Homo sapiens: one gene and its partner. The protein of the gene in region 2 interacts with the protein of the main gene of each other region in a biochemical or structural test. Each region holds a gene or a part of one and is shown on either strand. Other genes may lie near its edges.

Evidence for each region.
Region 1: of the proteins of HERPUD1 (region 2) and AMFR, one has a biochemical effect on the other in vitro, tested with the Homo sapiens proteins (6 studies listed by BioGRID and IntAct, with this or other methods).

What each region holds. Positions count from the first base shown.
Region 1 is NC_000016.10:56,424,215-56,427,814, forward strand, and holds the start of AMFR (E3 ubiquitin-protein ligase AMFR), read right to left. Parts: upstream 1,332-3,600; 5' UTR 1,114-1,331; coding exon 859-1,113; intron 776-858; exon of another isoform or gene 697-775; intron 521-696; exon of another isoform or gene 1-520. UniProt on the Homo sapiens protein: E3 ubiquitin-protein ligase that mediates the polyubiquitination of lysine and cysteine residues on target proteins, such as CD3D, CYP3A4, CFTR, INSIG1, SOAT2/ACAT2 and APOB for proteasomal degradation.
Region 2 is NC_000016.10:56,930,272-56,933,871, forward strand, and holds the start of HERPUD1 (homocysteine-responsive endoplasmic reticulum-resident ubiquitin-like domain member 1 protein), read left to right. Parts: upstream 1-1,870; 5' UTR 1,871-1,973; coding exon 1,974-2,120; exon of another isoform or gene 2,121-3,023; coding exon of another isoform or gene 3,024-3,044; intron 3,045-3,600. UniProt on the Homo sapiens protein: Component of the endoplasmic reticulum quality control (ERQC) system also called ER-associated degradation (ERAD) involved in ubiquitin-dependent degradation of misfolded endoplasmic reticulum proteins.

The DNA.
Region 1 (3,600 bases), 510 kb from region 2:
GGCAGACAACCTGGAAACTGTGTTAGAATAGATCCTCAAATAAGAAACATTCAGTTAAAATGATGGGCTGCCTCTTGACACTGTGAATGTTTTGCTGCGTTCAGACATCAAAGGAAAACTGTCATGAACATCAGGTAAAGGCAGCAGAAAAGGAAGCACAGTTTGGTGTTTGTTTCATTACACAGCTCCCAAAGGGGACAATCGAATACTAAGCGGCAAAAAAGTTGTGGGAGACGGCCTCTCTCCAACCGGAATGTCCAAAGACACCTGAGTGCCGAAAATTCCCCCATACTCAACGTCTGAATTCTCCCCTCTGCCCTCTCCTCTTCGTCGGAAGAAAATCCGCTAACAATCCCATGCCTGACCAAGTGGGAAAAGCTTTCAACTTCACTCTACTTCGTCCAACCCTCGGGATAACGCACTCCCAGATCCCGACCTCCCCTTGAACCTGCCCTCTGAGATCTTCTAGTTTCTCCCGAGGGTCCCTCAGAAAACCCAGCCCGTTCCTCCCCACTGCCCCTTAACCCCTTCCCCTGCCCCAGGCCCCGTCCGCGCCCCAGCGCAGACCATCACCCGCCGCCTCCCCGACCCCCTTCCCGGAGCCCTCAACGCTGGCCTGCCCCTCGGGGCCTCCTCCTCGCAACCCCACGCGATGTTCCTCCCGCCCGCGGCCCCCTCCCCCTCCCCGCGCCTCACCACTCTCCCTCAGCAGCGCTCCCGCGAGCAAGGCCGCGCCCCCCAGGCGCTCGCCCTCGGGGGTCCCTGGCGGAGGGGCCCCTAGGCCCACCACGCCCCCGCGGATAAAGGGTGACGCAGCGGACCCCGCCCCTGCCCCGCGGGCCCGGCCGCCTCGCTCACCCACACGAAGAGGCTGTCTGAGAGCAGGTACTGGGCCACATCGCGGGCCCGGGGTCCCCCGGCGCTCGGCCGGGCGGGCGCCGGCGGCTCAGGCTGCAGCGAGGCCGTTAGCTGGTCCGGCTCGCCGGGGCCGGCCTCGGGCTGGCTGAGCGCGCGGTAGGCGCTGATGATGGTGCCCAGCAGGGCCAGGCCGCTGAGGCCCGTGTAGGTGCGGAGGCTGGGCCAGGGGAAGCGCTCGAGGAAGAGCAGCGGCATGGCGGCAGCGGCGACCTCTGGCCCCCAGGCTTCCCTGCGCTGCGGCCGGGCCTCTGCGGCGGCCTCGCGAACGGCGCCCACGGGCTCTGGCGTCGCTGCCGCTGCCGCTGCCGCCGCCGCCGCCGCGCCGGGCCGGGCCGGGCCGCTCCTGGCTGCTGGCGCCGCTCCGCCCCGCGCTGCTCCCGCTGCTGCCCCTGCCGGCGCGGAAGAGCCTGGGCGGGCTCGGGACAGGCCGCCGCCCCCAGCGGGACGCTGGCGGGACGGGCGCAGGGGCGCGGCCTTCGTCCCCCGCCCCCAGCGGTCGCGCCGCCGCCTAGCGGGCGTAGCCCCGGGCCTCAGGCCGGGGGGCGGGCACCCAGCATCATCCGCCGTCCGCACCACGGCTTGGCTGGGCCCGCAGACACAGAGGGCACCTGCTCCGGCCGCGGCGCAGGGGTCACTCGGGCTCGCAGGCGCTGGCAGGCGGGCAGGGCCTCAGGGCGCGGGGCACCCTGGCCACCAGGCCGTCGGCCACTTGCCCCCCCCCCACCCCATTAACCCTCTGAAGAGGTTACCCCCAGCACTCCTAGGGGCCGCGCAGCTTCCCTGGTGCCCGAAACCCCAGAAGAAAGAATATTAACAGTCTTTCAAGTTTCTGCTGTTTGCTAGTAGCCTCCAGCAGAAACTAAAAAATGAACCTGATTTAGCGGGAAATAAAAATGTGTTCCCTCATACCCCAGAAGTGAGAATGTCAAATGGTGCAGCTGTCTTGGAAAATAACCTGTCCTTTCCTTAAAGTCAAACAAGAGTGACCATTTGACCCAGTAATTCCACTCCTCTAAGAAAAGTGGAAACATACCTCCACACAAAACTTGTACACAAATGTTGATTACATTCTAACAATCAAAAGATGGGAACAACGCTAATGTCCGTCAAGCGATGAGTGGATAAATGTGATACATCCATAAAATGTACTATTCGGCCATAAAAATGAACTACTGATACATGCTACAATAGGAACGAACCTTAAACACGTGCTAAGTCAAAGAAGACAGCCACAAAGGTCCACGTGTTGTGTGATTCCATTGATATGAAATGTCCACAATAGGCAAGTACATATACAGACACAGAAAGTTGATTAATGATTGCTTAGGGATGGGAGGAAGAGGGGAGTAGGGGGTGATAAAGGGTGCAGGTTTCTTTTAAGAGACAGGGTCTGTGGCCCAGGCTAGAGTACAGTGGCATGCTCACTGCATCCTCCATCTCCTGGACTCAAGAAATCTTCCTGCTTCAGTCTCTCCAGTAGCTGGGATTACAGGCGTATGCCACCACACCTGGCTAATTTTTAATTTTTGGTAGAGACAGCGTCTTGCTATGTTGTCCAGACCAGTCTGTGGCTCCTGAGCTCAAGTGATCCTCCCACCTTGCCTTCACAAAGTGCAGGGATTACAGGCGTGAGTCACTGGCTGGGATAGGTTTGTTTTCAAAGTAATGAAAATGTAAAATTGAGGTGATGATTGCCCAACTCTGAATTGAAAAATCATTGTACACTTTAAATAGTTCTATCTCAATATGCGAATTGTATCTCAATAAGCTGTTACCAAAGGAAAAAAATGTTACCTTGGGAGTTTTATTCCTTTTGCATCCCCAGGGCCTGTAAGAGTTCTCAGCCCAGAGTAGGTGCTCTGTAAATATTTGTAGGATTTTCCAAACTTTCTAAAGAAAAGGACCAAATTATCTTTCAAGGTCTTTTTCATGCCTAATATTCTAAAAGTCTATTAACTAGAAAACAAAAGATCTCTCAAGCTTACAATTCCACTTTGGAAATTTTAGAAACATCTTGTTAAAGGGTCTTTGATGAACGTTTGGCTTTACCGGGACAGGGAGAGGCCTTACCTTTGCACACGTGCATTTTTTTAATACAAGGTCTATATGAATACTAGACTTGAATTCACTTTGGTTCTCTTCCCACAGCCATGCAATTAAAATGCTAAACTTTAAACTTTATCAGTAAAATAAAGGAAAGCTTTATTTTGAAAAACTATTGTAATTTTCCAGGGAAGTGTTCTACTTTACAGGTCAAGATCTGAGCCACCATAACTTTTAAACCACTGACTGGCAATCTTTATTCAATCCTAGCCACAGTAGTTCTAAACTGTCACAAACCAAATTTGTCCCATCACCCTTAGAAACAGGCTGCTGTTAACAGATCTGCCCTTATTAAACTTTTAGAAGCTTGAACCTTCTGAAACTTCACATGAATGGGGGAAGTTAACCCAAAAGAACGTAAATCGTTTGTGTTTGGATCTTTTACTAGAATTAGTAATTTTTCTACCATTACTTTTTCCTTTCCCACTCCAAGACACACTCCAAGAAGGTACTTTGCACACCGTTGTTCTCAAGGAAGGACATTTTGGCAATAACCAAACAAGCCTTCTTAACCAATACTTCTAGTTCTTGGTAACTGCATCTTACTCCATGAGAGGACTGGGAAGGAGGCAGGACCCA
Region 2 (3,600 bases):
CGGAGTCTCGCTCTGTTGCCCAGGCTGGAGTGCGATGGCACAATCTCGGCTCACTGCAACCTCCACCTCCCGGGTTCAAGCAACTTTCCTGCCTCAGCCTCCTGAGTAGCTGGGATTACAGGCACGTGCCACCATGCCCGGCTAATTTTTGTATTTTTTAGGAGAGACGGGGTTTCACCATGTTGGTCATGCTGGTCTGGAACTCCTGACCTTGTGATCCACCTGCCTCGGCCTCCCAGAATGTTGGGATTACAGGCGTGAGCCACCTCGCCCAGCCTCAAACATACTTTTAAGGCCACCAGATGCAGCTGTACAACTGAAGTACATACACTTGCCATTGTAAAGCCTGCCACCAGATGCAGCTTGTCACTTGCCACTCACTGATAGTGTTTTGATATGAGTCTGCAAGCAATTGATTTATGATGGCCTCTGTGCAGTGAAACCTCTCTGCTAATGTTAATCCGTATTTGCAGCCACTCTCAGCACTAGCATCAGCAACTCAGCTCCACCTCCCATCATCAGGCATTCGATTCTCGTAAGGAGCACAGCCTAGTTCCCTTGCGTGCACAGTTCACAATAGGGTTCGGCTCCTGTGAGGATCTAATGCCCCCTGATCTAACAGGAGGCTGAGCTCAGGTGGTAATGCAGCGATAGGGAGCAGCTGTAAATACAGATGAAGCTTCGCTGGTGGCTCACCTCCTGCGGTGCCGCCTGGTTCCTAATAGGCCAGGGACTCATAGTGGTCCGTGGCCCAGGGGGGTTGGGGACCCCGTCTTAAGCCATCCAGTTTGTGGCACTTTGTTATGGCAGCTGCAGCAGATGAATATACCCACCAACCAGACCAGGCTCCTCCTGTTACCTTCCTGACCTTGACAAGCTCCTGACAACACCTGAAAAAACAGATGTCCCAAGGGGGTTGGAACAAGGAGGGAGCCGGGGCAATGTCAGTTTTGTTTTTCAAGCCTTTTTTTTTTTTTTTTTTTTTCCTACAGAGGAGGAGGAGGGAACGCCTACAATAAAGAGGCCTTTATGGTCCCACTTCAGGAATCGGAGAACCCCGCCCTCCTCGTCTCAGCCCCAATTTAACGGGTGCATGTGTGAGTATCTTATAAAGTGACGCGTTTTGAGGGGGACTCCAGTGTGAGCAGGACTGTGGCTGACTTGTCAATCATCATTAGGGTGATGTCCCAAACGTTCAAGTCTGAGGCCCAGGGAAATTGGCAACAGCTGCCTGGATGCCTCCATCCTCCCAGCCCAAGGAAAATCTGGCCTTGCTCCTTCGTTGTCTTTCTTAGGAGCACGTGGAGTTCTCCTAGGTGGGCTTGCACTCGGGGTCGCCCAGCCGTTCTTTGAGGGTTCGAGTGGGTAGGCTTCCCCTGTAGGACGGGCTTCCCCGTAGGTTTCCACGTGGGGCCACAGAGGCAGGAAAAGGGGAAGTGGGCACTGACACCTGGGGTGAAAAAGGGTGGGGGTGCGGCTTTGTGAGGAAAGAATTTGCAGAGACTGCTAAACTGGGGTCTGCTAGGATACCCCACTCCCCACCCCCTGCCTCGGGCGCCCTCAGCCACCCGAGCTGGGGGCCTCGCAGGTCTCAGACCAAGCTCCCCGCGCGGCCTGCAGCGCACCCAAACATGGCCACCGAACCCGGGTTCCCGGGGCACAGCCGCGCCTCTGGGTGACGCAGACGCGGCGGGTTGCATCAGCCCGTGCCCACGTGCTCGGTCCGCCCTCTGCCACCCGGATCCGGACGCCGATTGGGCCACGTTGGGAGAGTGCCTCCGCCTCAGCCAATGGGCGGCAGCCACAGAGCGTTCTGTCCGCAGAGCCGGGCGCGGGGCTTCTATAAAAGGCGCCCGAAGCGGGGGCGCGCGCCCCAGAGACGTGAACTGTCGTTGCAGAGATTGCGGGCGGCTGAGACGCCGCCTGCCTGGCACCTAGGAGCGCAGCGGAGCCCCGACACCGCCGCCGCCGCCATGGAGTCCGAGACCGAACCCGAGCCCGTCACGCTCCTGGTGAAGAGCCCCAACCAGCGCCACCGCGACTTGGAGCTGAGTGGCGACCGCGGCTGGAGTGTGGGCCACCTCAAGGCCCACCTGAGCCGCGTCTACCCCGAGCGTCCGGTGAGAGCGGCCCCGACTTCCCGCCCCTAGGCTGTGGCCCCCCGCCCTCTGCTGGGGATGCCACGTCCGGCTGCCCTGTCCTGTGGCCTCCTCCCGCTGACGGCTGCGATCGCTCGGCCGGTCACCTCCCCCAGGGCTGTGGTCTCCCCTTCCCTGCCCCGCCGACGCGGGCGCCCCTCTGTTGCCCAGTAGCCGTCAGTAATCAGCAGCCTGACCTTGGGCGAGTCATTTCACCCTCCAAGCCTGTTTCTCCCCCAGCGGCCAGGCAACTCGGTGTTCCTAATTGGGCTTGCATCCAATGGCTAGAAGTAAGAAAACATCCGTGCTGCAAAATGAGGTTTCTGAACGCAGCCTCTCTGCAGGGAGAGGAGCGGGCAGGTGCCACCCGGGGCCGTGGCTTGAGAAACCTGGGGACCGCCCAGACACTGTGGACGGAAGGCCCCACACCCAGAAGCAGGACGTGGCTCTTCTCCTCCCTGGCCACCTTCCGCCGTGCCCCTCCCTGTCGCACTGGACCGAGCAGCCATTGCCGAGTCCCGGGGTGGAGCCCCGTGCACTTTCTGACCAAGAGCGACTGAGAAGGGAAGCAGGCAGGAGTCGCCTTCAGTCTGGTTTTAGGACGGCAGCCTCTCCATTATTAGCAAGACTTCCTTGCTTTGTTTTGGTTGACACATCTGTCAACATCACCCTTAGCACCGCCTGCCCTGGCCACCACGTGATGAGGCTGTAAGCTGGCCCTTCCTGTATTTACTTTCTGCTCTGATATTATGTAAGTGTCAGCAGTGTTCTTCACTGCCCACGAGCATAATTCTTCATCACACAGGAGAGGGCATCCGGGCAGGAAAAGATAGTGAAGTCGTGAGTTCCAGCTTGTGGTAGCGCCTGTGTCTGTTTTTGTTTCATATGGTCAAGAATGTTTTAGAAGTGAGTTTTCCTTCTGAGTTGTTATTTTGAAATTTGCATATTTATTTAGTAAGCTTGCATTCCATGTCCTCTAGAATTCACCCTGGCACATTTTTCAGTTTCACCATAGCTGCTTCCAAGAAACTGGGTGGCTGTGTTGCCATGAGAATGACTATTGGGTACACAAATTGGTGAAGCAGGTGTAGCCTATGGTTGCATCATATGGCAAAAGGCAGGATTTTGGCGGAGGATTTTTAAGGTCTTCCTTTGATGAGGAATGCCGCTCCCATCTGTTCAGTCTGAAGACCTAACATTGTAAACAAATACCTCTCAGGTATACAAATTTGTGTCTAAAAATTATTATGGCTGAAACATACTTATCATTTGTTTTCTGTAGTAGAAAATGGCATAATATGAGAAGGCCTACTTTGTAATAGTTGTTTGCTTTACTTAATATTTTTCAAATCAGCCATCTGTGTGAAGACTCAATATCAAGTTAGGCCTTTAAAAGGGGGAAAATAATTCAAAACCACTGGCAGCTGTGGTTTTCCGGCCTTTTCTATTGGTTGAACTCTGT